Linked DNA regions of Homo sapiens. Each later gene encodes a partner of the first gene's protein in a complex. Each region holds a gene or a part of one and is shown on either strand. Other genes may lie near its edges.

Region 1 (16,346 bases):
CACTAGAAATACAAAAATTAGTTGGGCATGGTGGCACATGCCTGTAGTCCCAGCTACTCAGGAGGCTGAGGCAGGAGAATTGCTTCAACCCAGGAGGCGAAGGTTGCAGAGAGCCAAGATTGTGCCACTCCACTCCAGCCTGGGCACCAGAGTGAGACTCCATTTCAAAAAAATAAAAAAGAAAGAAAATAAAAAAATAAAATTATGCTCTATTTTGTTGGATTTTTTTTTTTTTTTTTTTTTTTTTGAGACGGAATCTTGCACTGTTTCCCAGGCTGGAGTGCAGTGGTGCCATCTCGGCTCACTGCAAGCTCCACCTCCTGGGTTCATGCCATTCTCCTGGCTCAGCCTCCCGAGTAGTTTGGACTACAGGCGCCCGCCACCACGCCCGGCTAATTTTTTGTACTTTTAGTAGAGACGGGGTTTCACCGTGTTAGCCAGGATGGTCTCGATCTCCTCACCTCGTGATCCGCCTGCCTCAGCCTCCCAAAGTGCTGGGATTACAGGCGTGAGCCACCGCGCCCGGCCAATTTTGTTGGATTTTAATAAAGCAAATATGGCACATTATCTGTAGCTTTCCAAATGAAGTAGGTAGTTATCTATACGCCAGGAATAAGTAATAGGTAACACCTTCCTGGAATAGTAATTTTGCCAGTGAATAACTTTAAAAATCTATTTCATATTAAAATACAGATGTATTTACAGAATAGAATGCAAAAGTTCCATGAACATAACACTGGTCCGTGAACTTTTAAGATAAGACACAATATTTCAAAGAAATTTCATGTTCGTAGAGGAGCCTGTGGGTTATAACTCCAGTCTCTCCAGGACTACCTAGTTCCTATCATCTGTCCTTAGACTACTTTTTTTTCCCCTTTGTTGAGATAGGGTCTTGCTCTGTTCCCCAGGCTGGAGTGCAGTGGTGTGATCTCAGCTCACTGCAACCTCTGCCTCCCAGGTTCAAGTGTTTCTCGTGCCTCAGCCTCCCAAGTAGCTGGGATTACAGGAGTACACCACTACAACCAGCTAATTTTTTTTTTTTTTTTTGACACAGTCTTGCTCTGTTGCCCAGGCTGGAGTGCAGTGGCGTAATCTTGGCTCACTTCAAGCTCCACCTCCCAGGTTCAAGCGATTCTCCTGCCTCAGCCGCCTGAGTAGCTGGGACTACAGGCACATGCCACCATGCCTGGCTAATTTTTGTGTTTTTAGTAGAGATGGGGTTTCACCATGTTGGCCAGGCTGGTCTTGAACTCCTGACCTCAAGTGATCTGCCCACCTCAGCCTCTCAAAATGCTGGGATTACAGGCGTGAGCCACCATGCCCGGCCCTTAGACTGCATTTAGTAATGACGAAAAAGAACATGCAGGTCATCCTAAGGGACTTTCTTATGTAACATCATCTGAATACAAATAAATTATTTGTTACTTTTTCAAAATATTGGGTTAGACTAACTGAATTGTTAGCAGTATATTTAGTCTAAATTGTTAGTAGTATATCTTCTTGAAGCTATGAGTATTGATGAGGCCAGATAATCATAGAAAACTGTTTAGCTAAGAGAAGAAATCTTCAATTTTACAGGAAACTATCTGAAAATACCTTATGAAAATTTTACTAGATCTTAATCTTAGTTTAGAAATTCATTTTACTTAAAAAACTCTGGTGCATCTCCATTATTAACTAAATGGCTTTAACGTTTTTTATTTCTCCATCAGCCAGAGAATAACCAAAAAGCACTCTCTACCAAAGCCAAGAACAAAATCAATCCCTAACACTAAAAAAGTCACTAGCACATTATTTTGAAAAAACATATTAGGTTTTATTAACATTTAATACAGTACTAATATTCATAAACAATTACTATCCCAACACATTAAATGCATTTAATAATTATGGTACTGAAATATGTAAGTACATGTATTCCAGAAATTTCTCATTCAATAAACTACATTTCCATCAAATAGTTTAAATATGGAAACAATTTCACTATGTAAGAACTTAGAGCAATTATACATTTTACAGTTATATTTTGCTTTAGAATTTTTCAGCATGCTTCTCATTTACTACTATTTCATCTGATTCTCACAGCAACCTGGTAAGGTAGTTAGGTCTGATATTATTACTATCTAAGAGATAAAGGGGGGCCGGGCACATGGCTCAAGCCTGTAATCCCAGCACTTTGGGAGGCCGAGGTGGGTGGATCACAAGGTCAGGATATCGAGACCATCCTGGCTAACATGGTGAAACCCCGTCTCCACTAAAAATACAAAAAATTAGCCAGGCGTCAAGGAAAAAAAAAAAAAGAGAGAGCGATAAAGGGTCTAAAGATCAAAGAAGATCCAAGACTTTTTTTTTTTTTTGAGACAGAGTCTCGCTCTGTCACCCAGGCTGGAGTGCAGTGGCGTGATCTGGGCTCACTGCCAGCTCCGCCTCCCGGGTTCACGCCATTCTCCTGCCTCAGCCTCCCGAGTGGCTGGGACTACAGGCGCCCGCCACCACGCACGGCTAATTTTTTGTATTTTTAGTAGAGACGGGGTTTCACCGTGTTAGCCAGGATGGTCTTGATCTCCTGACCTCGTGATCCACCTGCTTCGGCCTCCCAAAGTGCTGGGATTACAGGCGTGAGCCACCACGCCCAGCTGAAGATCCAAGACTTAACCAGTCACTTAGCTAGTAAGAGACAGATATCATTCTTATTAAAGTATTTCAGGAAAAAAAAAAGAGAGAGAGAGAGAGACAAAACCCAGGTCCTCCTGCCTCAGTCTTTGTGATCTTTCAATCAGATGACATTTGAGGAGCATTTCATAGCTGAAGAGAACAAGGAAACCATCTAGTTCAACTACTTTATTTTACAGATCAACCCAGTGAAGTTAGATGGTTCCCAGGGTTTATACAGAATTGCTAAGAGAACTAAGCCTAGAATCCAGGTCTCTGGACTCTCTCCTTTGAACAATTACTCTCAAAAATAAAGACAAAACCATCTAGCATTTCCTTGCCTGATGTCAGTTTTTAAAGAAAGAAATCATCACTGATGAGAAAAAAAGAATTCATTTCCAAATAACAAAAGAGTAAAGACACTATTTTCAAGCTGACAAAAAACAGGATGCACAACATATAATTAGCAATCAGCCGTTCTAGTTCATTTCTTGCTCAGCAGCTGCTGGGTGACACTCTCTTTACCCAGTTAAATTCCAAATGCTTCTGATGATCTTGGGTATATCTCATGGAGAACAGTATAGGACAGGGATCTGCCTTGGTATATCACACAAGTTTATTTAAAAATTAGCCTGAATTAGTTGGAATGACCTGTCAGGTTCCTGTTTTCCCTACTAGCCATGTGACTGAGCATTGGCTCATAGTATTTTTAACTATACCAGTTTTAAAATTAGATTGTAGTATATAAAATTCATACTTCGGAGGCTAAGGCGGCACAAGAGTTACAAACTGTTTGGGCTTTAGAGTTGGAAAATATAAAATGAAATCCCACCTCTAGCACTTACAAGCCATGGGACTTTGGGCAAGTGATTTAATATCTGAAACCCTATTCCTTCATTTGTAAAATGAGATGGTAATACCTACCCCTAGGGTGAGTCAGATATGCACAACAATTACTAGCACAGTACCTGGCCCATAAAAGGTAGTTATTACCATCACAGAATACGCCTCTCCCATTCTGATTCAGCAGCAATATCTACACTAAGATGATAGAACTAACTAAAAAAAAAACAAAAAACAAACAAAAAACTTGTGCTTAAAAAGACTTTTAAAACAGTGTTTTCATAATGAAATATTTCAGGCATACATGTAAGTGTAAATTATATAATAAACAGTGATGCACCCACAACTGAGCTTTGAAAAAATAAATCAAGATAATTTATTTAAATCTGCTCTTAAAATGAGACTTGGGATCTTGAAAAACAAAGATTTGCAATGTTATTTTCTGTTCAGCTTTCTAAGAATATTCAACACAATATATTCAGCAGCCTTACTATACATTTCAAGTATTTTGTCAGGCAATTACTAAGTAGTGTTTCTTAATACTTTGTGAGCACTACCTGTATTCTCTCAAGCCAACCTTTTCCTAATTCCCTTTGTTAAGTGCTTATGAGTTAACATCCTTTCTCAGGTTATACACTCAACGCCTGTACAGCTATTCATTAAAAACTCTTCTTCCTTTCATTTGAAGTTATCCTAAAATTTACACTGATTTTCTTCACATATTGTTAGGAGGAGTGGGATGTGGTTTGAATCCTACTCCTCTCTCCTTCCTTCCTCCTTATCCCTCTGGTATTCACTTAAAAATTTTTAAACTTTAGAAGGAAAAAAGGCTGGATGCCGTGGCTCACACCTGTAATGCCAGGTGTGGCCACTCTGGGAGGCCAAGGCAGGAGGATTGCTTGAGCCCAGGAGTTCAAGACCAGCGTGGGCAACATAGTGAGACCCTGTCTCTACAAATAAATAAATAAAATTAAAAACAAAAAAAGGAGAAAAATTGGAAGACAAATTTAAGAAATAGTAAAATCCAATAGCTGACATGTGTGTTTTACTACATATTACACTATTCTAAGCACTTCCTATGTTATTTCATAAAATAATCTTCACAACAACCTTAATAACCATGTGTTACATATTACTATTATCCCTAACTTAAAGATGAGGAAACTAAGGCATAGTCATCTAAGTGGTAGATCTTATCCAGAATCTGCCAAAACATCACACTGTAAAAATTCAAAATTATATCAAACTTCCACTATTTTATTCAGTGAAATTAGACAACTAGAGTTCCACGGGTTTCATTTGTGTGGGGCTAATTTACCACTTACCTCACTAGTGAACATGGCACAGAAGTAATCACTACAGGCAGCCAGCACAATCCGATGGGCAGGGAAGTCTTTCTGCTCTACTCTCAATGTCACATCACAGAGGGTATTGCTCTTCCTGAGGGAGTTCATTGAATTGAGGATGGATTTAGCATGAGTATTTGTCATTATGTCTTTGGGGGCCATAATGCCTCCCATAAAGCAGTGCGGAGAAAGAACAAAATGGGTCCTTGGATTCTGCAACTACAAGAGGGAAAAAAAAACAATGAGCATATTCAAAGAACTAGGGCAACTGAACATATTTAATTAGCTTTACAAATTAAGAACCTAAGAGGCTTCCTCAGACCCAAACATACACAAGTTGAGGGCACTCCTATGCCTGGCATCACCACCAACCACTAGCCACTATCTAGTCCATGTAAAAGCTCTCTCTTCTTCCTCTGAATTCCTCTATCACGGAGTGTCCCTACCACTTGACATTTAATATGATCAATGCTGAAATGTAAGTAGAGATAAACAATATATGTCTTGTAAATCTTGACAAGGTTCTTGTCTCAAATGATAAACCGAAAATATAAAATTTCTTAAAGGTGTTATATTATTACTATTTAATGTCCTTAAGTAGATAAGTATTTAGAGCATACATAAAAAGAGGATCCTGCTTTATATGTATGCTTTCTATCCTAGAAGTTGCACAATAAATGTTTAGAATTTAATGTAAGAAAAAGTGTGTATTCAACTTCAACTTAGAGCAAGAAAGGCCACTCAGTAAAAATAAACTTTTTTCTAAAGAAGTATCCAAATGATATGTCTGATGACTTCCAAACATATCTGGATTTCTTCTTAAAATGAAACTTCAGGCCGGGCCCAACAGCTCACTCCTGTAATCCCAGCACTTTAGGAGGCTGAGGTGGGTGATCAGTTGAGGTCAGGAGTTTGAGAGCAGCCTGGCCAACATGGTGAAACCTAGTCTCTACTAAAAATACAAAAAATAGCCAGGCGTGGTGATGCGCGCCTATAATCCTAGCTACCAAGAAGGCTGAGGCCCGAGAATCACTTGAACCCAGGAGGTGGAGGTTGCAGTGAGCCGAGATCACACCACTGCACTCCAGCCTGGGCAACAGAGCGAGACTCTGTCTCAAAAAAAAAAAAAAAAAAAGAAACTTCAATTGAGGACCCATTACCTACACTGAATAATGGAAACCACGCAAGTTATCGATGGACTTACACTTGCTTAAGATATTGAAGCTCTTCAACAAGAGGGTATTCCTACTCTACATCTGTGAATGTCCATTACTGTTAAAGAATCGATATTGGAATCCAAAACTTTCTGAAATGATCCGGGGGGAAGGAAATCAAACTGTGGTCTCCAAAAGTCCACAAGTCACAATTAATCTTTCAACAGGAAAAATGAGATCCTAAATTCTCATCTACTTCTGTTTGTAGTTGGCATTTTACTCTATAAGCACTATAGATAATTCCTCCAACAACTCTGCAAGACCCATTTTACAGAAAAGCGGGTGATTCATCAAAGCATATGTTTTTCAAAAAGACTTAAGTCAACTTAGTTGCAACTCTAGGGGTGTAAAAAGGTCTAGAACAAATGTCCATTTACTATGAAGACAGCCCGGGGGGTCTTTTATCGTTTCCGTGTCAAAATGACAGTACCCCGGTGCAGAGTGGTCTTCCTTCTAGGGGATTCCTGCCTCAACACTCCAAGTCTCAGCATATCCTTCATCCTCACCCTTCTGAAGTGACCTATTTTCTAGAACTTTCGTTAACATCTGAATGGAGGGATTCCACTTCGGGAGATTCGGGGCAGGGAATGGGTAGTAAACTCGGGAAAGACTAAATTCTAGAGAAGGAAACGAAGTCCTTCCTCCTAATACCACCAGGCATATGGCCGCCACCGCCAGGTGGAGGTATCGGAGAGGGGCAGTTCAGGGGGAGAGTTGAGAGGGTGACCGAGGCCAGATGCCCCACCCCACTGCCAGCCTTCCTCCTCTGTTGGGCATGTCTCCCATTCCGCCTTGCAGGGAGACCAAGGATGGGGGGTAGGGCCATAACCCGGAGTTGACGGACAGGAAGGGAAGGGCTGACTGCCATCACTTCCGCGCAACTCACCTCCGCTCCCGAACCCACACAGCCGCACCGGGCCCGTCCCCAGCCTGTGGGGATGGAGTGCGGCGCGGGGCTAGCAGGCGGCTCGGGAGGAGCCGAAGCGCCGCCCAGACCCGGAGGCTCTGGAGGCTCTGGAGCCGTCCGGGTCTGGCCCCTGCGGCCGCGCGACGTGATGACGCAATGCAGCTGGAGCACCGCCCTCCCCCCGCTCCAGAGTCTGCGTCACGTGAGGAGGTGGTGTCACGTGACCTGTCTGTACCCTAGCGCGGGGCTTCTGTACGCTGCTAGGAAGCCGAATTACAAAAAGGTCGGGTGGGCAGGGAATGGTGGCTCACGCCTATAATCCCGGCACTTTGGCAGGCCGAGGCGAGCGAATTACCTGAGCTCCGGAGTTCCAGACCCGCCTGGGGATCACGGCAAAACCCCGTTTCTACAAAAAAAAAAAAAAAAAAAAAATTAGCCCGCACCGCGCCTGTAGTCCCAGCTACTCGAGAGGCTGACAGGAGGATCACTTGAGCCAGGCAGCAGAGGTTGCAGTGAGCCAGGATCGCCACTGCACTCCAGCCTGGGCCACAGAATGAGACCCTGTAAAAAAAAAAAAAAAAAAAAAATGTCCAGGCGTGGTGGCTCACGCCTGTAATCCCGGCACTTTGGGAGGCCGAGGCGGGTGTATTACTTGAGGTCAGGAGTTCGAGACCAGCCTGGCCAACATGGTGAAACCCTATCTCTACTGAAAATACAAAAAAATTAGCCGGGCGTTGTGGCACGCGCCTGTAATCCCAACTACTCAGGAGGCTAATGCAGGAGAATCGCTAGAACCTGGGAGGCGGAGGTTGCTGAGCCGAGATCGCGCCATTGCACTCCGGGCTGGGCGACCGACTGAGACTCTGTCTCTTAAAAAAAAAAAAAAAAGGCCAGGCGAGGTGGCTCACGCCTGTAATCCCAGCACTTTGGGAGGCCGAGACGGGTGGATCACGAGGTCAGGAGATCGATTCTGGCTAACACGGTGAAACCCCGTCTCCACTAAAAATACAAAAAAATTGGCTGGGCGTAGTGGCGGGCGCCAGTAGTCCCAGCTACTCGGGAAGCTGAGGCAGGAGAATGGCGTGAACCCGGGAGGCGGAGGTTGCAGTGAGCTGAGATCGCGCCACTGTACTCCAGCCTGGGCGACAGAGCAAGACTCCGTCTCAAAAAAAAAAAAAAGAAAAAAGAAAAAAAAGAAAAAACAAAAAAAAGGCTGGATGTTGTGGGGTCCGGCAGGGAGCCTGGGAATGTATCTACAGCTCGGCGATTGGCTGAGCCTGAGTTCCTCCCTACCGCTCACTAGGCAGGGCAGGCAGAGAGAATTCCAACGCTTAATATGCCAAGCATCTGATTGCAGCAAGTATGTTTTACCTTCCAGGTACTGAGGAACTTTTTGACATCGAGAAAACCCACAGAGGCCTCAAATTTATTCACGTCCATTGTCCACAATGGCCTTTTCGGGCCGAACAACGCTGCGGCGAGAATCCTCTGAGCCTTAGGATCCACAGACCTCAGTATATACTCTGCATCATAATGGGCCCTGTCATCACCACTGAATTGATTCTAAGGAAATTCTAATTGATTCAGGAAATTCTAATTTATTTTGGTGCACTTAGTGACTGAAAAGGCAAAAAGCTTAATTAGTTCAGCTTATCTGAATGTCTAGACAAATTGTGTTTGGTAATACTATTATGCTCTGTGAGCCCTTTGATTCTTTTTTTTTTTTTTTTTTTTTTTTGAGACGGACTCTTGCTCTGTCGCCGAGGCTCGAGTGCACTGGCGCGATCTCAGCTCACTGCAACCTCCGCCTCCCGGGTTCAAGCAATTCTCCTGCCTCAGCCTCTCCGAGTAGCTGGGAGTACAGGTGCACACCACCACGCCCGACTAATTTTTGTGTTTTTAATAGAGACGGTGTTTCGCCATCTTGGCCGGGCTGGTCTCGAATTCCTGACCTCGTGATCCGCCCGCCTTGGCCTCCTAAAGTGCTGGGATTACAGGCGTCAGCCACAGCGCCTAGCCCTTTGATTCTTAAGGGTACTAAAACCATAGCCAAGTGGGTAGCATTCTAAATTTACAACGTGTCCCCATCTTCCATGTCATACCTTCCTGATCTAAAACTGTCCCTGACTCACACATTGTAGAGAAGAATGCAAGATTGGTATATTATTGGGGGCATTTTGGAAATATTCGTCGATTTTAATAAAATTTTCCTTCACATATACTCGTGCACATGTAAAACGATGTATGTACAAGATTGTTAACTGCAGCATTGTTTGTAGATTAGATCAACAACAACATTAAATGTCCATTAATAGGGGACTGATTCAATAAGGTATAGTACATCCATAAAATCCAATACCATGAAGCTGTGAACAATTTATATACTCTATTATTGGTGTAAAAAGGTGGAAGATATATTCATATTTGCTTGTGTATGTGTAACATGTATTTGAAAAGACAAAGTGGTAACCTTGGTTTCTTTGGGGAAAGGAACTGTTTGGTTGTGAGACAGGGTGGGAAGGAGATTTTTGCTCTTTGTAATTTATTTTGCCTTTTGAATTTTGCTTCATATGAATTAAAAATAATGTTCAGAGCCTGGTGCGGTGGTGTACACCTACCTGTTGTCCTATCTGCTTTGGAGACTGAAGCAGGAAGATTGCTTGAGCCCCGAAGTTCGTGACCAGCCTGGGCAACGTAGCAAGAGCACGCCTCAAAATATATTTATATGTTCAATTTTTTAAAAAGTAAAAATAGGCTGGGCACAGTGGCTCACGCCTGTAATCCTAACACTTCGAGAGGCCGAGGCGGGCGGATCACCTGAGGTCAGGAGTTCCAGACTGGCCTGGCCAACGTGGCAAAACCCCGTCACTACTAAAAATAAAAAAATTAGCCAGTCATGGTGGCCTGCGCCTGAAATCCCAGCTACTCAGGAGGCTGAGGCCGGAGAATCGCTTGAACCCAGGGAGCAGAGGTTGCAGTGAGCTGAGATCACGCCACTGCACTCCAGCCTGGGCAACAGAGCAAGGCTCCATCTCAAATAAATAAATAAATTAATTAAATTAAATAAAAAGTAAAAATAATTCCTTGTTTTCAGGATGTAAAATAGTACTTTAATGATATTGCCTAATTCCTGACTGTTAAATTAAGGATTTTTCCAAATATGAGAAGGAACTTAATAATAAAAGAGGCTTTGTTTAGAGTATGCCTACTCCTTTTATTCACAAAATAAAAGATGGAGAAGTTGTTAGCAAGATTATCACACCAAAGGAACTAGTTCAGACTTCTGACTTTTTTCTTCTTTTATTTCCTCTTTTTTGTTAATATTTGTCGGTACATAGTAGGTGTATATATTTAGGGGGTACAGAGGGATTTTGATACAGGCATATAATGTGTACTAATCACATCACAGAAAGTTGGGTATCCATCCCCTCAAGCGTTTATCCTTTGTGTTAAAACAATCCAAGTATACTTTTAGTTATTTTAAAATGTACAATTCAATTATTATTGACTATACTTACCCTGTTCTATCAAATACTAGGTCTTATTCATTCTTTCTAGTTTTTCGGTACCCGTTACCCTCCCCACCTTCCCCCAACCCCCACTGTCCTTCCCAGCCTCTGGTAATCATCCTTCTACTCTCTATCTTTGTGAGTTCAATTGGTTGGTTTTTAGATCCCACAAATCAGTGAGAACATGCGATGCTTGTCTTTCTGTGCCTGGTTTATTTCACTTAACATAATGACCTTCAGTTTGATTCATGTTGCTGCAAATGACAGAATCTCATTATTTTTAATGACTGAATAGTACTCCATCATGAATAAGTACCACATTTTCTTTATCCATTCATCTGTTGATGGACACTTGGGTTGCTTCCAAATCTTAGCTATTGTGAACACTGCTGCAACAAACATGGGAGTGCAGATATCTCTATGATACACTGATTTACTTTCTTTTCTTTTTTTTGAGACAGAGTCTCACTCTGTTGCCCATGCTGGAGTGCAGTGGTGTGATCTCGGCTCACTGTAACCTCCGCCTCCCAGGTTCAAGCAATTTTTCTGCCTCAGCCTCCCAAGTAGCTGGGACTACAGGTGCAGGCCACCATGCCTGGCTAATTTTTGTATTTTTAGTAGAGACAAGGTTTCACATATTGGCCAGGCTGGTCTCAAACTCCTGACCTCATGATCTGCCCACCTCAGCCTCCCAAAGTGCTGGGATTACAGGCATGAGCCACCACACACAGTTGATTTACTTTCTTTTGGGTATATACACAGTAGTTGGATTGCTGGATTGTATGGTAGTTCTAGATTTAGTTTTCTGAGGCGCCTCCAAACTGTTCTCCATAGTGGTTGCACTAATTTACATTTCCACCAATAGTGTACAAGGGTTCCCTTTTCTCCACATTGTTGCCAGCATTTGTTATTGCCTGACTTCTGCATAAAAGCCATTTTAACTGGGATGAGATGATATCTCATGTAATTTTGATTTGCATTTCTCTGATTAATTATGTTGAGCACCTCTTCTTATGCCTGTTTACCATTTTTATGTCTTTTTTTGAGAAATGTCTAAATATTTTGCCCAACTTTTATTTTTTAAATATTTATTTATTTATTTTGAGACAGGGTGTTATTCTGTCACCCAGACTGGAGTGCAGTGGTACGATCTCGGCTCACTGCAACTGCTACTCCTCAATGCTGGGCTCTAGCGATCCTCCCACCTTAGTCTCCTGAGTAGCTAGTATTGCGGATGCATGCCACCATGCTCTGTTAATTAAAAAAAAAATTATTTTTTATGAGAAGAGGTCTCACTATATTGCCCAGACTGGTCTGGAACTCTGGACTAAGCAATCCACCTGCCTCAGCCTCCCAAAGTTGGGATTACAGGTGTGAGCCACTGCACCTGGCCTTAACCAGATATAATCAGATTATTAGATTTTTTTCTATAGAGTTGTTTGAGCCCCTTATATATTCTAGTTATTCATCCCTTATCAGATGGGTAATTTGAAAATATTTTCTCCCATTCTGTGGATTGTCTCTTCACTTTATTGATGGTTTCCTTTGCTGTGCAGAATCTTGTTAACTTGATGGGATCCCATTTGCCCATTTTTGCTTTGGTTTCTTGTATTCATGCAGTATTACTCAAGAAATTTTTTCCAACCCCACTGGAAACAAGAATCTTTAAAAAAAAAAATAAAGAAATTTTTGCCCAGACCAATGTCCTGGAGATTTTCCCCAAAGTTTTCTTATAGTGGTTTCATAGTTTGAGGTCTTAGATTTAAGTCTTTAATCCATGTTGATTTGATTTTTGCATATGGTGAGAGATAGGGGTCTAGTTTCATTCTTTTGCATGTGGATATCCAGTTCCCCCAATACCATTTATTGAAGAGACTCTTTTTCCCAGTGTATGTTCTTTGGCAGCTTTGTCGAAAATGAATTCATCATAGGTATGCGGATTTGTTTCTGGATTCTCTGTTGTGTTCCATTGTTCTCTCTGTGTGTTTTTATGACAGTACCATGCTGTTTTGGTTACTATAGCTCTGTAGTATAATTTGAAGTCAGGTAATGTGATTTGTCCCATTTTATTCTTTTTGCTCAGGATAGATTTGGCTACTCTAGGTCTTTTGTGCTTTCATATACATTTGAGGATTGTTTATGTTTCTGTGAAGAATGTTACTGGTATTTTAGAGATTGCATTGAATCTGTAGATTGCTTTGGGTAATATGGACATTTTAACAATATTGATTCTCCCAATCCATGAACATGGAATATCTTTTTATTTTTTGATGTTTTCTTCAATTTCTTTCATCAGTGTTTTATAGTTTTCATTGTAGAGATTTTTTATTTCTTTTTCTTTTTTTTTTTTTGAGATGGAGTCTTACTCTGTTGCCCAGGCTGGAGTGCAGTGGCATGATCTCGGACTACAAGCTCCGCCTCCCGGGTTCACACCATTCTCCTGCTTCAGCCTCCCAAGTAGCTGGGACTACAGGTGCCCACCACCGTGTTAGCCAGGGTGGTCTCGATCTCCTGACCTTGTGATCCACCCGCCTCGGCCTCCCAAAGTTCTGGGATTACAGGCATGAGCCACCGTGCCCGGCCAAGATTTTTTATTTCTTTGGTTAATTCCTTGGTATTTAATTTGTGGTTATTGCAAATAGGATTACTTTTTTTTATTTATTTTTCAGATTGCTTGCTGTTGGCATATAGAAATGCTACTGATTTTTGTATGTTGATTTTGTATCTTGAGACTTTACTGAATTTATCAGTTCTAATAGTTTTTTGGTGGAGTCTTTAGGTTTTTCCAAATGTAAGATCATGTCATCTGCACGCAAAGATAATTTGACTTTTTCCTTTCCAATTTGGATGGCTTTATTTCTTTTTCTTGTCTGATTGCTCTAACTAGGACTTCCAGTACTATATTGAATAACAGTGGTGAAAGTGGGCATCTTTTCAGGTTCCAGATCTAAGAGGAAAGGCTCTCAGTTCGATACAAGCTGTAGGTCTGTCATATACAGCTTTTATTATATTGAGGTATGTTCCTTCTATCCTTAGTCTTTTGACAGTTTTTATCATGAAGGGATGTTAAACTTTATCAAATGCTTTTTCAGCATTAATTGGAAGGATCATATGATTTCATTCTGTTGACATGATATATCACATTGACTGATTTGCATATGTTGAATCATCCTTGCATCCCTTGGAAAATCCCACTTGGTCATGATGAATGATCTTTTTAATGTATTGTTGAATTAGGTTTGAAAGTATTTTGTTAAGAATGTTTGCATCAATATTCATCAGATATGTTGGCCTGTAGTTTTCTTTCTTTCTTTCTTTCTTTCTTTCTTTCTTTCTTTCTTTCTTTCTTTCTTTTTTTTTTTTGATGTGTCTTTGTCTGGTTTTGGTATCAGGGTAATACTGGCCTTGTACAATGAGTTTGGAAGTATTCCCTTCTCCTCTATTTTTTGGAACAGTTTGAGTAGGCTTGGTATTACTCTCATTATAAATGTTTGGTAGAATTCAGCAGTGAAGCCGTCAGGTCCCAGGCTTTTCTTTACTGAGAGATTTTCTATTACAGATTTGATCTTGTTACTTCTTACTGGTCTGTCCAGGTTTTGGATTTCTTCATGGTTCAATCTTGGTAAGTTTTATGTGTCTAGGAATTTATCCATTTCTTCTAGGTTTTCCAATTTATTGGCATATAGTTGCTCATAGTAGCCATTTTTTTTTGTTTTGTTGATCTTTTGTATTGTTTCCTTCATTTCAAATTCATTTATTTCTGCTCTGATCTTTATTATTTCGTTTCTTCTACTAATTTTGGGCTCTGTTTGCTCTTGCTTTTCTAATTCTTTAAGATGCATCATTAGGTTTTTTATTTGAAGTTTTTCTTCTTTTTTGATGTAGACACTTTTAGCTATAAATTTCCTTCTTAGTACTGCTTTCACCATATCCTATAGGTTTTGGCATGTTGTCCTTCCATTATCATTTGTTTTAAGAAATTTTTCAATTTCCTTCTTGATTTCTTCATTGACCCACTGGTCATTCAGGAGCATGTTGTTTGATTTCCATGTGTTTATATAGTTTCCAAAACTCCTCTTGTTATTGATTTCTAGTTTTATTCCATTGCGGTCCGAGAAGATGCTTCATATTATTTCAATTTTTTTGAATCTTTTAAGACTTGTTTTGTGACCTAACATATAGTCTGTCCTTGAAAATGGTCCATATGCTGAGGATAAGAATGTGTATTCTGCAGCCACTGGATGAAATGTTCTGTAAATATCTATTAGGTTAATTTATTCTATAGTGCAGATTAAGTGCAATGTTTCTTTGTTGATAGTTGATATTCTGTCTGGGAGATCTGTCCAGTGCTGAAAGCGGAGTGTTGAAGTCTTCAGGTATTATTGTGTTGGGGCCTATCTCTGTCTGTAGCTCTAATAATATTTGCTTTATATACCTGGGTGCTTCAGTGTTAGATGCATATATGTTTACAAGCGTTATATCCTCTTGCTGAATTGTCCCGTTTATCACTATATAATGATCTTCTTTGTCTCTTCTTGTTTTTGTCTTAAAATCTATTTTCCTTTACATATAAGCATTTCCCCTAATAAAATCTTTGCACATATAATTTCATCTTAGCAAGTGCTTTCCTGAGAACTAGACTAACACACAGGACATCTGAGAATTTCTTTGGGTCCTATTCATTTGCAATAATCCAAGTTTACTAAAGTTCCCAAAGTTGCATTTTTTAAAAATTGAAAATGGGTGTTGTATTAGTCTGTTCTCTCACTGCTAACAAAGATATATCCCAGACTGGATAATTTATAAAGGAAAAAGGTGTGGTTTTTTTTTTTTTTTGAGATGGAATCTTACTCTGTTGACCAGGCTGGAGTGCAGTGGTGCAATCTCTGCTTGCTGCAACCTCCACCTCCCAGGTTCAAGCAATTCTCCTGCCTCATCCTCCCAAGTAGCTGGGATTACAGGCATGAGCCACCATGCCTGGCTGGTTTTTGTTTGTTTGTTTGAGACGGAGTCTCACTCTGTCGCCCAGGTTGGAGTGCAGTGGTGTAATCTTGGCTCACTGCAACCTCTGACTCCCAGGTTCAAGTGATTCTTGTGACTCACCCTCCTGAGTAGCTGGGATTACAGGTCTCTGCCACCACACCCGGCTAATTTTTTTGTGTTTTTAGTAGAGGTGGGGTTTCAGCATGTTGGCCAGGCTGGTACTGAACTCCTGACCTCAAGTGATCTGCCTGCCTCGGCCTCCCAAAGTGCTGGGATTATAGGCATAAGCCACCATGCCCAGCCAGGAAAGAGGTTTAAGTGGCTCACATTTCAGCATGCCTGGGGAGGCCTAGGGAAACTTACAATCATGGTGGAAGGGGAAGCAAACATGTCCTTTTTCACATGGCAAGAAATGCCAAGTAAAAAGGGGGAAACCCCTTATAAAACTATCAGCTCTCATGAGAATTGACTCACATGAGAACAGCATGAGTGTAACCACCCCCATGATTAAATTACCTCCCGCTGGATCCATCCCAGGACACATTGGGACTATGCGAACTATAATGCAAGATGAGATTTGGGTGAGGACACAGCCAAACCATATCAGATGGCTTATAGAACACACACACAGACACACACACACACCCCAAATTTAAAAAAAATAGGAAAATATATATTTTTAAATTTTATTATTATTATACTTTAAGTTTTAGGGTACATGTGCACAATGTGCAGGTTTGTTACATATGTGTACATGTGCCATGTTGGTGTGCTGTACCCATTAACTCGTCATTTAGCATTAGGCATATCTCCTAATGCTATCCCTCCCCCCTCCCCCCATCCCACAACAGTCCCCGAAGTGTGATGTTCCCCTTCCTGTGTCCATGTGTTC
Region 2 (16,288 bases), on another chromosome or scaffold:
ATGTACCAGCGAAAGAGGGGGATTTGTTGTCACTTTTTAAAGCATGCTTTTCCTGAAGCGCAGTTGCAGTGAGGAAAGACTTACCTTGATGTGATTGCCCCAGTTGAGTCAAGTGATTTAGTTTCAGAGAACATGAGGACCTCTCTGAATTCCTAAAATTTAAAAGGATACACCTCATGCAGAATTCTGAAATTGTAAGAACATAAATACTAAAGTCAGTGTGCGAAAACCTCTGCTTTGTGTAAATAGGTACGATGGAATTTAGGAGAATAAGTGTTTTGATAATAATTAAAGATTTTTTGAATGTTTCAAACTTTTTTCTAAGTAAACGTGAGAAATGTTGACAAGCGAGTACTAACGAAGCTTACTAGTATGTTTTCCCTTATAATTGGGCAGAGCTGGGTTATGCATTTGTGAGTGATATTAATTTTCCTACTAAATTCTGACCACTTTAGAGTTTAGAATTACTTAGAATTTTATGAAGTTAATAGTTGTATACAACAGATTTTCTTTTTTTTTGAGACAAGAGTTTCGCTCCTGTTGCCCAGGCTGGAGTACAATGGCGTGATCTCAGCTAACCGCAACCTCCGCCTCCTGGGTTAAAAGCCTCCTGAGTAGCTGGGATTACAGGCATGCGCCACCACACCGGGCTAATTTCGTATTTTTAGTAGAGACGAGGTTTCTCCATGTTGGTCAGGCTGGTCTCGAACTCCCGACCTCAGGTGATCACCGACCTCGGCCTCCCAAAGTGCTGGGATTACAGGAGTGAGCCACCGCGCCAGGCCTATATACAACAGATTTTCTAGCAGTGTGTGCAGCCTTACACTACTCAATTCTTGAAGTCTCATGTTCTAAATAAGATTTTTTGCTAAAATGTGGAGTAACTCAAATTTGACATCAACTCACTCAAGTTAATGGCCTTCTGATTGACCAGTTGTACGTTAATGTATGTGTAATTAAACTCTTTGACCTCTTCAGGTTTCCCTGCTCTTACCTGTTTTGCCATCATTTAATTTGTTCAGCAAATACTGAATATTATGTGCCAGGCACTGTTCTGGGGGTCTGTCAGTATAGCTAGAAAGACCAAGATCCCTGCCTTTTGGAGCTAATATTGTTGGGGAGAAGAGGTGGGAGAGAATTTCATTATTCCTTTAGCTGACCAGTATAATAACGTTGTGTGATACGTTACCACATAGTACTGGAACTGAATTTTTTTTTGTTAGCTTCGTTATGATTATGAGCTAATTTGGATCCATTCTGTCTATAACTTTTGCAGGTTTTTCTGAAAACCTTACATGAAGTAAGTGACTAGTTTTGGTATTCAGTAGTTAATAGCTGCTGATTTCTAAAAGAATTTTTCATTACTGTTTAATAAGTATTAATAACATTCCTAAGTGATTCCCATTGGAAAGAACTATTACAGTTTATGGCCCTTTGTTACAGATAGATGTATATCTCAGTGTTAGGGTGTTTCATAGATTTATCTTACTAACCGTGTGCTTATAGACCTTCAAAATTCCTGTCTTCCAGATTGGCAGTCTTGTTCATAACTACAGACTGCGTGAGTTGCTAGTCAAAAGTAGTTAATACCTAGTGTTCCGTAAAGAAAAAATATGGCCGGGCGCAGTGGCTCACGCCTGTGATCCCAGCACTTTGGGAGGCCGAGGCAGGTGGATCACCTGAGGTCAGGAGCTTTGAGACCAGCCGGGCCAACATGGTGAAATCCCATCTCTACTTAAAATACAAAAAATTAGCGGGGCGTGGTGGCGGATGCCTGTAAACCTAGCTACTTGGGAAGCTAAGGCTGGAAAATCGCTTGAACCTGTAAGGCCGAGGTTGCAGTGAGCTGAGATCGCGCCATTGCACTCCAGCCTGGGCAACAAAAGCGAAACTCTGTCTCAAAAAAAAAAATTGTTTATGGTTATACATATGTACATCCTTAATTGTTTATGGTTCCACATATGTACATATTTAAAAATTATTGTATTTTACATCTGTTGTTTGGATGTATACTTACTGTAATTTAAGGGAAACTGTAGTTTCACCAAAAGTGTCAAGCACTCGGCCGGGCAAGGTGATTCACACCTTCACACCTGTAATCCTAGCACTTCGGGAGAGGCAAGGCAGGCGGATCACCTGAGGTCCTGAGGTTAAGAGTTGGAGACCAGCCTGGCCAACATGCAAACCCCTGTCTCTACTAAAAATACAAAAATTTGCCAGGTGTGGTGATACACGCCTATAATTCCAGCTGCTCGGGAGGCTAAGGCACGAGAATCACTTGAACCTGGGAGGCAGAGGTTGCAGTGAGCCAAGATCGTGCCACTGCACTCCAGCCTGGGCAACAGAGTGAGACTGTCTCAAAAAAAAAAAAAAGAAAAGAAAAATTATATATGTTTAAGATGTACATGATGTTTTGATATATGTATACATTCTGACATGATTACTACCATCAAGCTAACACATAATCACCTCTTTTTTTTTTTTTTGAGATGGAAACTCGCTCTGTCACCCAGGCTGAAGTGCAGTGGCACGGTTTCAGCTCACTGCAACCTCCGCCTCCTGGGTTCGAGCGATTCTTCTGCCTCAGCCTCCCCAAGTAGCTGGGATTACAGGCGTGTGCCACCACGCCTGGCTAGTTTCTGTCTTTTTAGTAGAGATGGGGTTTCACCATGTTGGTCAGGCTGGTCTTGAACTCCTGACGTCGTGATCCGCCTGCCTTGGCCTCTCAAAGTGCTGGGATTACAGGTGTGAGCCGCCACGCCCGGCCAATAGTTCTGTTTTTTATGTCTGTGTGATGAGAACAAGTAAGATCTACTGCCATAGCAAATGTAAAATATGTAATATAGTATTATTAACTGTTCTTAACTGTGCTGCACATTTGATCTCCACAATGTATTCATCTTAAAACTTGTATCCTTTGACCAAAATCCACGCCCCCATTTCTTTCATTCCCCAGCCTAGGCCTTAGAGCAAGACTCTTGTCTTAAAAAAAAAAAAAAATCTCAAGCACTCATCTCAGATTGTTTTACAAAATTAACTTGTAAAAAAATATAGAATTGTGTTTTGAGATTGTTTTCATTGCAAAATAGAGTGGTAATTGAACTTACTGGATATTTTATAGATACTACTCCAGATAAATTCCCATCAGTAATATCAGATTCTTTTTAGTGTTTTGAGTGCATTTTTTTTTTCTTTTTTGAGACAGAGTCTTGCTCTGTCGCCCAGGCTAGAGTGCAGTGGCACGATCTTGGCTCACTGCAGCCTCCACCTCTTGGGTTCAACCGATTCTTGTGTCTCAGTCTCCCAAGTAGCTGGGACTACCGGTTTGCGCCACCACGTCTGGCTAATTTTTGTATTTTAAGTAGTGATGGGGTTTCGCCATGTTGGCCAGGCTGGTCTTGAACTCCTGATCTTAGGTGATCAGCCCACCGCTGTTACGCAAAGTGCTGGGATTATAGCTGTGAGCCACCGCGTTTCAGCCTTAGTGCGTATTTTAAGTATACCTTCATCATTGTCTGTAGAAGTTATAATACACAACAGTTTAATGCACAATTTGCATTTTTAAATAGACCTTTTCCTAGAAGTTCTTTTTAAGATGGAAGACAATAAGGACGTTTCTGTATTTGTAAGCTGTTGACAAAGGAAAAGTTTATTCCAGTTTATAAGCTTTCCCGCCTTGCACAAAATGTATCATTTCACATCTTTTTGATAATGTTTAAATTTTAATTTGTATGCAGAGGAACAAGGACCACAAAACTTTTTAAAGAAAGCAGGCTGTAATTGTGAAACTTCTGGAAATAATGTGGGTCTGGATCAAATAATTCTGCCCCAGGGAGTCTCTTCCTTACTCCTGGGCTTTGTTCCACTATGTAGGATTAGTTGCTTTCAGGTGAACCTTTTATTATCTTTATCTTTGAAAAATCATTTCTTACCATTTTTACTGTCTGGGGTTTTGCCCACATGGGTTTGATGAGCTTGATTAGAATTGGAGAGGATACGTTTGAATGAAAATGCTGTCCTTTCCTGTATCAAACGGTAATAAAGCCTTTCTTGGCCTAGCCTTCAGAGTTTGGGAAACCTGTTATGAAGGTGACTGTCTCCAGAATGTAATCAGGCTCTTAAGATCTCTACCCTGGGGTCCTGGAAGTAGCTTCAGTTAGTTTATAAAAGCTTGCTAACTCATCAGGAGAAAGAGTGTTATGATAAAATGCCCACTCCCTAATGCTAGAGGAACTCCACTTGTGTAGCATGGACAGCAACTGTTTGGAAGTGATTGTTAGCTGGAACATACAGGGCGACTCACATTAGTGAAGGAGTTTTATGTTCATTTGTGATATACTTAAGAACAGGAAGAGTCTTAAGGACAGATGGGTACAGTTAATCTTTTTTTTTTTTTCTTTTCTTCGAGCTACAGAAATGTTTGCCAGATTTGAGGGAACAGCTTTCATCTTCATAGTAGGTTTCTCTTTCTTAGGGAAGGTAGTTGTTGGCATAGTACTACCTGGACTGGTACATAGAGGAAAGCTGGATGGTAGTCTTGCAGATCACACTGAGCAGAGAATTAATTATAAATTTGCTTTTCATTTTTCATGTTATGAAACAAAGTGAAACAGATTCATTAAAGTGTTACTTATACTTAAACTAATACTGTTTATAGTTTTGGGACAGCCAGTATTGTCATAGCTGTTAGTACTACTATGACTTTAGAAGTTAGAAAAATAAAAGCATACGGTTGTTATTAACAAAGTATTTATTTTGTCTTGTCTTTCTAGATAGCAGTTCAGAGGAACCTGGAAAATTATTAGTACCAATATTGAATTAGAAACTATTTAAGTAATATGAAATATAATGTAAAAATTTGGCTTTTTAAGTAATACATAAATCACAAACTTGATTCAAACAAATTAGAGAATGCTTCATTTGTTTGTACATCATTCATTAAATGAAGTTAAGGGATGAAAGCATTTGTCCAGTTCAGGAAGATTATATGATTAAGGCTAGAAAAAGTGGTATGCCTTTTTTTTATATTATACATTGGGGGACTTTAAAGGGAATTTTTTGTTATTTTCATTCCAGAGTACATGGATGGTCTTTAGTAGTCCTGTTAGGTTTATATAAAAGTTACTAGACAATTTGTAGTTTTAAATAATGCAACTTTTTTTTAAAAGTAGTTCTTGTTAGCCCATTGTAAGGTCAACAGAATGTAAAGGTATTACTAGTAAGAACAAATCACTGAGTTAACACATGAATTACAATTAGTTATTAGTCTATCAGTGTCTTGTGAAAACTATTCAACCATAGTCTGTTAAAGCAATGAATTTATTTTAGTAGCTTTTCTAATTATAACAATGATGTATATTCCTGGTAGAAAAATTGATAATTATCTAAATGTACAAGTAGGGAAATAAAAAAAATCACCTGTAATCCTACCACTTGGAAACAAACAACATTAACATTTTCATGTGTTTTTGGAATTTTAATTTCATATTGTTGGCTGAACAGACAGTAAAATTAAGGTAAGATAATCATTGTATATGCTGCTGTTAAAAAATTTCTTACTGTAAATTTTTGAAAACATAGTTTTTAATGACTATCATACTTCAGTTTGCTTAACCATTTCCCTATTGCCAAATATTTTGGTTGATTCCAGGGAGTCCATATTTTTTCTGTTAAAAAAGATTGCAACTATGACTATTTAGACACATAAATATTTGAGTCCATCTATGATTATGGAATTATTGGGCTGCACGTAACTGAAATATATTACCTAATTGACCTCCATAAGGGTAATAATAATAGCTAACACTTTCTAAATGCTTATCATGTACTCTGCATATCTAAACTTAATCATTTGAGCAAACTCTATTGAATACTACTATTATCTGTTCTACAAATGAGGCTTTGAGAGGCTAAATAATTTGCTTAAGGTATTCTTCCAAGTGGCAGAACTAGGATTCTGACCCAAGCAATCTGGCTCTAAAGTGAGCACTCTTAAGAATTAATTATATTTCTCAAGGTTGTATCCGTTTAACTTCTGTGTAGCAGTATCTTACCCAGCATAATGTATGTTTAATTTTATAGGTGAAAAAATAGTACTTTAATGCTTTAATTTGCATTTCTTTGACTACTTAGGAGAATAAAACTATGAATAGTCTGTAGAGAATTTTCATTTACTTTTGCACTGGAGTATTCAACATATGAATATAGGGATGTGACTAAAAAGTAAAGAGACTGAAAGCATAGTAGTTAAGAGTGTGGGCTTGAATACCAGCTCCATGTCTTTCTAGCTGCATCACCTTTTTTTTTTTTTTTGAGACAGAGTCTCCGCTCTGTCACCCAGGCTGGAGTGCAGTGGCGTGATCTCAGCTCAGTGCAAGCTCCACCTCCCGGGTTCACGCCATTCTCCTGCCTCAGCCTCCCTGGTAGCTGGGACTACAGGTGCCTGCCACCACGCCTGGCTAATTTTTTTGTATTTTTAGTAGAGACGGGGTTTCACCGTGTTAGCCAGGATGATCTCGATCTCCTGACCTCGTGATCCGTCTGCCTCATCCTCCTACAGTGCTGGGATTACAGGCGTGAGCCACCGCGCCCGGCCTCTAGCTGCATAACCTTTAACAAGTTACTTCTTGTAGCCTCAGTTTTCCCCTGTGTAAAATGAGACTGCTAATGAGACCCACCTTACAGGTTTGTTGTGTGATAAATAAAATAAAGCTTTAAAATAGAACTTAGCAGATAGTTAACTATTATTATACCAATATTTAGCCACGATTAGGCCAATATTAAAATTGGATGTTGTTTTTGCAAGCAGTTACATCGAATGCCATACACTTATTTTAGCGATCCTGTCATTTTATTGTACAACTTCTAGAACTTAAGTTTTGAAAAGCCTGCAGAGCCAGTTTGTGAATCGTTCTAAGAAAGCATTCTCAAAGGATATGGGTTTAGTACCACTGGGATACTTAAAGAATCCTGTTGGCTCTTGAGGGGTGGCTTCAAAAACAGAAGTTCATATATGATTCACATGTAATCCTTAGAGTAAGTGTGTAACCTCTTGTAACTTTATTGAAGGAATAAACACTCATTTGGTTTGCATGTTCTATAATATGTACGTTAAATGTGCATCTAAAAACACATCTAGTTTTTCTTTTTTCCTTCCTTTCCTCCCTTTCTCCTCCTTCTCCTCCCCCCCCCCCCTTTTTTTTCACTCCTGAACTAGGTTAGGTTGTGGTCCCTGTCCAAAGCTTATGCCAGACATCGTTTTGAACCATGCAGCATTTAGCATAGTGTGAGTGGTTAGTGAATGATTGATTACATGAGAAACTAGTCCTCTAAGCCAAACCATAGTAATTGATAAATTCAGTGAGTCAGCGCAAATGATGCTCTGAAATGTTTGAAGTTTTTGTAACTCTAAGTGAAGTCTTAAGATGTAGTAGAGGGTCGTTAAAGATCATGTGGCACTTCTGTATGTAGCAGGGTAGTCAGCCTAGTCTCCTGGAAAAATGAGTTGAAATTGTCAGTGACCCTGAATTGGGAGTTAGAAGACTTAGTCTGCGGTCCAGTCTTTCTGTTTACTAGCTGTGGTCTACATTTCACTTCCTCCACCATGACTGTTCTTCGCATCTCATCCCTTCCTGTCACACTGTTAAATTGTACACTCTGGTCCCCTATTTCTCAGGCTTATCTTTTTGAATTGAGGTTTCTATTACAGTCCTTGAATTATTGGGCCCAGATGTGGTTTATTGCCACTTCCATCATCATCTTTTTTGGCTTGAGAATTACTCTCCTGCTCTCTCCCTATGACCATCTGACTTCCTGAACTCATGCTCCCTCAGTCATTGAGGAGTTTAATACCTTCCTCACAGATACTATGTTAATACATTCCTCACAGATATTATGTCTAGCCTCTATTTTAATTTTGTTCATTGCATGTGGAAGTCATTCATTTATTCAATTTAAAATACGTTTATTGTGTGTTGCTGCTATGGGTCAGGTCCTGGATCTACAGTGGCGATCAGACAGGCTTGTATTGCAGGGATCTTCACGCTTAGAGCTTGTCATCCTACTAGTTTAAAAATCTTCAAACTTCCATTTTGCATTTTATCCTAGCTCTTCTGTTTGTTAGATGTAGGACTTTGAGCAAATCACTTAGTGTCTTGTCTGTTCCCTCTTTTGCAAAAAGGAAAAAATGATGATACCTACCTCATAAAATTGTTTTAAAGATGGAGTTAATACATATAAAGCTTCTTAGAATAGTGCTTGGCACATAATAAGCATTATACATAAATGCAAGGTGTTATTATTTAATTATTCTATCTTGTTGCTTGGTTCCTTCTCACGTTAATGTGCCCTTTGATCTCAGGAAGACCCATTTATTCTCCCAAGCCATGGTGCTGTCACTTCCACCTATGTTACCAGTTGCCCCTTTCTTACTACCTCCCCAGAACAAGGCCAGAAATAGCAGCAGAAAGCATCTTGGATCGTTCTACCTATTTGCCCCCACTGAACATATTTTCTAGCTACTCCTGGAGAAAATTGCAAGACAGTGGTCTCTAATTTAGCTGGACTCTCAGTGCCTCTGAGCAGTTTCCTTTATGTCCCTGGTCAGCTTCCTCTCCCCTTTCTTGCCTGAGCTATTCCAAACTTTAATCATTGTCCTTAAGCTATCTCTTGAGAATTCTCAAATTGCTCTTACTTCAAGAAACCTAACTACTACATCAGTGTGAAAAGGAATGTAATTAGGTGAAAGTTCGAAGTTCATTCAGCATTCTTCCCTTTCAATTATATTATTTAATCTGCATCTTTATTCATTCTCGACTCCTTCCCTCTGGTCTCAGAGAAGGAAAATGTCTTTTTCCTGTCTTCTGCATTATAGTAACTACCTCCTTTCACAGCCAAGATTCTTGAGAGAGGAGTCTCTATTTCCTTTTTTAGAGCATAATTTTCTTGAGGAGGCCTCAGTCTTTTTTATGACTTTGATCAGTACAGCAGTACGCACCCAGCATATAGTACACAATGTTGAATAAAGGAACTAACAGACTCTTTAAGTTTGTTTCCTCCTCTTTAAGATGAGAACTACAGCAGTCTTTCACAAATTGTGAGGATTAAATGAAATCATGTCAGAAAATGCTAATAGTGGTATCACTATGACATTTAAAAGAATTTCCCAATCATAAAATCAAAATTTTCAACTATAATTCTGTTTCATGTAGGGCAGTTATTTTCAAACGTTTACAGGGAGCCTGGAGGGTGTCTAGGACCCAGGAGGCCTAGGAAGTGTTAAGTAGAAATCTTTGAAAGCTCCCTCTGTGGTCCTTGAGAGCAGCTCCTGTGTTACCATTTGTATATGGGGTTCTGTAAAAGATTTCATTTTAAGAAATGCTGTTAACCATTGCTTTAAAATCACTAGTAATAATTATTAATGAATCTTTTTTAAAGGTGAGGAGAATACTACTTGCTCAACTTGATAACGGTTAATAGGAAATTGAGAACTGATCCTGTAGTTGCCTTAACTCCTAATCCAAATCTGTTGCTACTAGACAGCATTCTTTTTTTTAAATTCAGTTTTAAAGTTGAAAATGTAACTAAGCAAAACTTCCTAATTTGACCTCCATTTAGTACTTGTAATCATTGAGAAAGGATTGGACCCAAATTTACTCTTTAAATGAGAAATGTTACTGCTGAGCAGATGAATAAAACGACTTCAAAGGGGAATTTTTACCTACTTTAAGAAAATATAAGATTCCTTAGAGATACTTTCTTATAAAAGCAAGCCATCATTGCTAAGAGGAATTCCTTCACATATGTGTTTGTAAGTCATTCTTACCTAAAACAGCTCTTAACTGAGCAACACTTAGCCTCTTCTGTTTGCCCTGTCCTCTCCAAAGTAATGGTGAAAAATTCCTTTTTCTTTTTCATCTCCAATTCCTTTCCATTTCCACTAGAGGTTGCCTTGTAAGATTAGTGACAACTTGTTGAATGTCTGACTTGTGGTAGGCTGTTTTAGATACTTTTAACTAATTATCTGAAATCCTGAAAACAATTTTAAGTATAATGTGGTTACTCCTGTTTTAAATCTATTTGGGTCTCAGAGAGGACTAGTAAAATATTTATGATATTACATATACGCCTAGAGAAGGGCAGAGTTGGGATTCAGATTCTAGGTATGTCTGACTGAAAAGTTCATGTTGTTTTCATTATACAGAAAATTAATTCTAAGGTTACCTTTTAAATTATTAGCCAGGGGCAGATCTGGGGACGCTGAAGCTTATACAATGCACTACTCTCTTTACAAAAAGAATCTACCTTCAGGTTCCAGGAGTTGGAAGAAGCCTTCGTAAGCTTCCTTCGTAAGCTTAAGTTTTACTGGCTTTAAGTAAATGGACCATTTATAAAAGTTATGAAAAACTTGGGAAATGTGTATTGTTCAGTAACATTTGAATATATAACTTGTTTAAGGGGACCTTAGTGTGTATTGACTTGAATAAAGCAGTCAAAAGCATAACCTGTAAGAAAGGCTTATTATTACTAGTTGACCTATTTATGAGTTAACACTTTGCTACTTTAAATTGTAAGGCCGACGACACACATTAAAAAAATTTGGTTAATAGAAATTTAAGTATATACTTAGCAAAAAGTGATTCCTTGAAGTTAATATGTCTAAAATACTTTGATTTTTGATTTTTTGTCTTTAAGAATATACTAAAGAGATAGATTAAACAGTAAAATGTATTAGAAATACAAAGATTAAATTCTCTAGTAATAATTTACTACTTTTGGTGTACGCAAATGCAACATGAAAGAAATAATGCTTTTTTGATGAATGCTATCACTAGCCAAATAATAATTTGTGTGCTCTTGTGTTAGTATTTTAATTTTTGAGGGCTAAAAGTGACTCTTGAAATCTTTTTGTGGTGCTATAACAAAATCCTGCAGACTGAGTAATTTATAAAGAACAGAAATGCATTTTCTCACATTTGTGGAGGCTGGGAAGTTCAAGATCAAGGTGCTGCAGGTTCTGCTGTCTGGAGAGGGCTGCTGTCTGCTTCCGACACGATGTCTTGATGCATTGTCCTCTCGGAATTCTTTGGTGGGGACGAATCCTGTATCTGCACATGGCAGAGACAGAAGGGCAAAAAAATAAACTCTCTGTCAGCCTCCTTTATAAGGCCACCTAATCCCATTCACAAGGGTTCTACCCTTATGAGTTAATCACTTCCTGAAGACCCCACCTTTTTTTTTTTTTTTTTTTTTTCTCTCACTCTCACCCAGGCTGGATTGCAGTGGCTTGATCTTGGCTAACTGTAGCCATGCCCTCCAGGGCCTAATGGATTCTTTCACCGCAGCCTCCTGGGTAGCTGGGACGACAGGTGCAGGTCAGCAGCAATTTTTTTTTTTTTTTTTTAAGAGACAGGGTTTCACTGTGTTGCCCAGGCTGGTCTCAAACTACTGGGCTGAAATGATCCACACACTTTGGCTTTCAAAAGTGCAAGGATTACAGGCGTGAGCTGCTGCACCTGCATTGCCGTACCTTTTAATACTGTTAAATTGATGATTAAATTTCAACATGAATTTTGGAGGAGACACAGGCATTCAAACCGTGGCAGAGACTTTTGAGAGAATCTGTTCTTTCTCAACAGATGAGCAAACAGGGGTCTAGAGAAAGTGGTTTACCAAGGGATACACTCCTGACTTGAATTTATGGAAGGACCATGACCAGAAGCTTGATTTCTGGTTAAAAGCTCTTTTCTCTTTAGCAGACTGAAACAAACATGTAGCCGTAATAACTCAATGTTAACACTGGCCTATTTAATTATAAAATGATTTCTCAGTATTGAGCACTCTGATTATTTGAGTTGACATGGTACCCTGGAAGGACACTCAGCTTAGGACACTTGGACTCCTTCATTGCTCTGTGTGATCTTGGATAAGCTTCCTTAGCCTTAGTTTCTTCTTTGTGAAATGAAGAGGTTTTAACTTGGGGTTACCTTAGGCTTATTCTAGCTCCAAAAATTTCAGTAAAAGACAATTGTGTTTATACATAAATCTAGGCACCGACTACTAGTGTCTTTTCCTGTGGCCTTTGTTTGAAATATTTTGTGTGATGTTGCAAAAATTACTTACTTTTTAGTCTTAGATTTTTCTTTATGAATGGTATGGTTCAGTGATGATGGTTAAGTTCTAATGTGAAGCAGTGGGAAAGTTAGCTGTGTTCTTGTGTACATTTTTTTTGGTGAGTTGACAGTTGTAGGAAAGTTTTAAACAGACTTATAGCAGATTTTTGTAACAATTTTGTGTCATAGACCTTTTGCTGTCATATCTTATTTGATTACAGTTAGAATCATTCAAAGACAGAGCAAACTATGGCAGTTCGGTATTTTGTATGTTTTTTTCCTTTCCCTTTGGGTTATGTGTAATTGATTTAGGTACAATCAATTTGTCATTGTCTTACAGTTTATAGAGTTTTTATACATTATCATAGATGAATGTGTAAAAAGTAATTTTATATACATGTGACCCATGTATAAATAAATAGTAGTGTTAAATAGTATAAATAGTAGTGTTTTGGATTTCATAGTATATTGGGAAATACAACAAATTTTATTTTGAAGTGTTGATTTTAGATATAATCACTAATTTTCTTAATATAGAGGGTCTGTAAGTACAATGTTTGAATTCTAGTTATGATGACTACTGTGTTTTTTGGATAAAATGTGTTTAAGGGAGTCCTGTAACATCTCTATTTTTATGGGTGGAAATAGCACCAATAGTAGGACAGTGACAAGCTTTTTACCTCAGTGAGAGTACTTACATTATTGTATCTTATTTGTTGTGGTCATTATCACATTTTGAAATGTTATACATACCTTTTTTTCTATATATGCAAAAGTCATTCACAGAGATATAGTCGAAAGAGTTGTTAGTACTTTTAGCTCAATTGCTCTGTGACTTAAATGGACTTAAATAGGCTAATCTGGAAGCTTGACCTTGTGTCTTTGAAAAAATTGTTTCACATTTCCCACATTCTCAAATTGAGTTTTGGATAGCCTACTCATATTGAGGACTGAAATGCAAATCATAATTGAACCTTCTATTGATGATTTAACTTTCTCATTATGAATGTTACTGTTCTGTAATGTAATGATACTAGAGCCCAATTGAATGTCGATCAGGTTGTGATTTCATGGAATTGTCCCATGCTGCTGTGCTTTTCTAATTGATAATCTTTTTTTTTCTTTTTCCTTGGCATCAGCTCTTTTTTTGGCAGCACTCCCCCACTCCCATCTGTTCTCCACTGTAACCAGAGAAACCAGTTAACCAAACATCAGTAGTTTTTACATTCAGTTTTAAGTCACTAATCAAGGCTATATGTCTCTTCTACATAGGCAAGGAAGAAACAAACATATTTATTGAGCAAGTGCTGTGTGCCAGATGCTTTCACAGACTTTCTTAATTACCCCACAGTCCACCGTCTCACGTTTCTCTGGCCACAAGCAAATGAGGAAAGTGAGCTTTGAAAGGTTAATTTGTTCAAAGTCTGTTTGAATGTGTCCCACTGGGCTGTTTTTCTCAAAGCTTGGATCTTTGGCTACATTTTTGATGGTTGATGTTGCTTAAGGAATAATTGATGGATAAATGGTATTATTGCAGATGTCATAAGTAGTTGTATACTGTTTGGTCATCAAATAAGACTCCTTATCATTAACTGCAAATGGACTGTATTCAGATCATTTTTTTTTAATATTATCTATACATTGTGCCACGCATTGTAAGGGGTACAATAACATAAAGACCTTATCTACTGTGAGGTGCTTACAGTTTGGGAGGGAGCTTCCTTATGTAATTAATAGTTTAGTTGTATCAGATTTAAAAAATACTGCCATTCCTCAGATGCTTGTACCAAAGCTTTTTTTTTTTTTTTTTTTTTTGAGACTGGAGCTTGAAATTAAGATCAAGTATTTTCCCTTGTTTATTTTTTTTCTAGCTGTGTCATTCTGAATTGCCTGGAATTTCAAATTCTCACCCTTTCCCCCACCCACCCTGTTCTAAATTTTTTCTTGTAGAAAATTATTCACAGAGGACTAAAGACTTCTTGTCCTTTGTATGTAGTAGATGTTAAGAATTCACTTCTTTTCATTTAGTTTTAATTTGTCTCATGATGTAGTTCTCTCAGTAATCACAGAACCTTCAAGATGTGTAAGTATATAATAGACTGACATCCTTTCAAATTCAGGCATTTTGAAGGTTATATTTTTTATATCATCTGAAGTAATGTAAATGAAAAGATTTTGCTTTAAAGAAAACAAAGACCATTATAGATTTATTTTTGTTATTGATACTTTTCTGATGGGAAAATTGTAATCCTGGATTGGAGGGAGGTAAGGAGGCAAAGATCACTTTCAAAAATTAAATTCTTGACTTGGTTTTTGAAAGTCTTACTAAACTATAAACATTTAAGAATCCTTAATTATATTTTTCCTTTAAAAAAGCTTTTGTTTCTTTTTCTGCTGAATGAATTTAATTTGCTTGCTGATCATTTTGTAACTTGGCCTTCTTGGGGAAGGGTCCTGTATACATCTGATAATTAGATAGCAAATATTACATGTTTGTGTATATAGATGATAAATGTGTGTGCAGTTTATTTTATTGTTTTGCTGACGCATTAGTTGCTAGATCCCTTAGTGTATTTGCAGTTATTGCAACTTAATCAGTTTATCAATGGGATTAAAGCCCTGCTCAAGTAATTTAGAATGTTACTTTAAAAGAATGTTACTTCTCTTTTAAAAAATATATTAATACATAAAGTTAGAGCCTTTAAATTTTATTGCTCCTGGAATGAAGTATAGCTTAAAGTTTTTATTGTTAACATATTGATGAGGTGAGAGTTGAACATTTAGGCATTTAAAAAATTTTTCAGTAGCAGTTAATGTTGCTTCTGTGTCAGGGATGGGCAAGTGGAAAGATTAAAGCTCATTAGTAACATAATTATTTTGCCAAGGATGTTGACGTGCATTTGATGCCAAGACCCGATCATGTGTATGTATTAATCTGCACTTGAAGCCCATTTCATTTGATATGTAGTTTTTGGACTTATTTGATTTAGGGAAAGATTGTAGCTTATTGATCTGCTTCTGAAGGGCCTATTTCGTCTACCCTTTTTTTCCCAGTTAATATTTATTAGTAAAATTAATGATTAAGCAGCCTTCTGGGTGAGGCCTTTAGGTGAATGGGAAAAATCTGAAAATATTGCTTGATGTAAAATTTAAAAGTGTGTTACTTGTACACTACTTCTGTTAGAAAAAGATTTGATTATTTAAAAATTAGATTAATTGCTGAGGGTAAACACATTCAACCGTTTTCCTGTATCATTGTGCCTTATAAGTAAAAAGTTTGTGTTGTCAAAATTACATTGGTATAACATGGATAAAGTAGTATTCATTCAACAGACATTTGTTTACAACCTTCTGTGTGGCATTGAAGAAAAATGCATAATCTCTTAAGCTCATAGTCTAGTGGAGGAAGATGCATGAACAGATAATTCAGCTACATGGGAGTGTAGTGATGGTTACAAACTGTCACTAGTAGTTATAGACTATCACCACATTCCCATATAAACGAAAATACACTACAGTTTATTTAGTGTATAGTTAAGTAAATACAGTTTACACTATAAAATATCACGGAAGAACTGAGAAGGAGTTGTTAACTTTGCTTGAGGAGTTCAGTGAAGGATTCCTAGAGGTTATGACACCTAGCTGTGTTCAGAAGATATGTGTAAAGAATCAGATAAAGAAAAGGCAAAGCAAAGGAGGACCAAAAGCAGGGGGGAAAAAAGACATGGGAACTGAAATAAGTGGGGAGGGGCTGTGACAGTGATGGAAATAGAGTGAGAAACAGCAAGTTGTATATTTAAGAATTCCCATTGGTTTAATGTTGTTGGGAAATACATGTCAGACAGGTGTGGATAAGTGAGCATAAACTAGGTCTGTGCCTACTATGCTACCATAGAAAGGTTTTGAACAGGGTCATGGTGTGCCTATGTTTATTTTGATTGTGATTTTGAGGGAAGTAGATTCCATGAGGTTGGAGTTCATAGTGTTTGGAAGGCTCTTGCAGTGAACTAGGTGAAAGGTTTTTTTTTTTTTGAGACAGAGTCTCACTCTGTTGCCCAGGCTGGAGTGCAGTGGCACAATCTCGGCTTACTGCAACCTCTGCCTCCTGGGTTCACGCCATTCTCCTGCCTCAGCCTCCCGAGTAGCTGGGACGACAGGCGCCCACCACCACACCCGGC

The links.
Region 2: KLHL12 (region 1) and CUL3 share a complex: the UniProt entries of both Homo sapiens proteins name them as parts of the BCR(KLHL12) E3 ubiquitin ligase complex.

Annotation. Positions count from the first base shown.
Region 1 is NC_000001.11:202,920,148-202,936,493, forward strand, and holds the start of KLHL12 (kelch-like protein 12), read right to left. Parts: upstream 7,088-16,346; 5' UTR 6,942-7,087; intron 5,061-6,941; coding exon of another isoform or gene 5,016-5,060; coding exon 4,821-5,015; intron 1-4,820. UniProt on the Homo sapiens protein: Substrate-specific adapter of a BCR (BTB-CUL3-RBX1) E3 ubiquitin ligase complex that acts as a negative regulator of Wnt signaling pathway and ER-Golgi transport.
Region 2 is NC_000002.12:224,567,594-224,583,881, reverse strand, and holds part of CUL3 (cullin-3), read left to right. Parts: intron 1-13,926; exon of another isoform or gene 13,927-14,109; coding exon of another isoform or gene 14,110-14,193; intron 14,194-16,288. UniProt on the Homo sapiens protein: Core component of multiple cullin-RING-based BCR (BTB-CUL3-RBX1) E3 ubiquitin-protein ligase complexes which mediate the ubiquitination and subsequent proteasomal degradation of target proteins.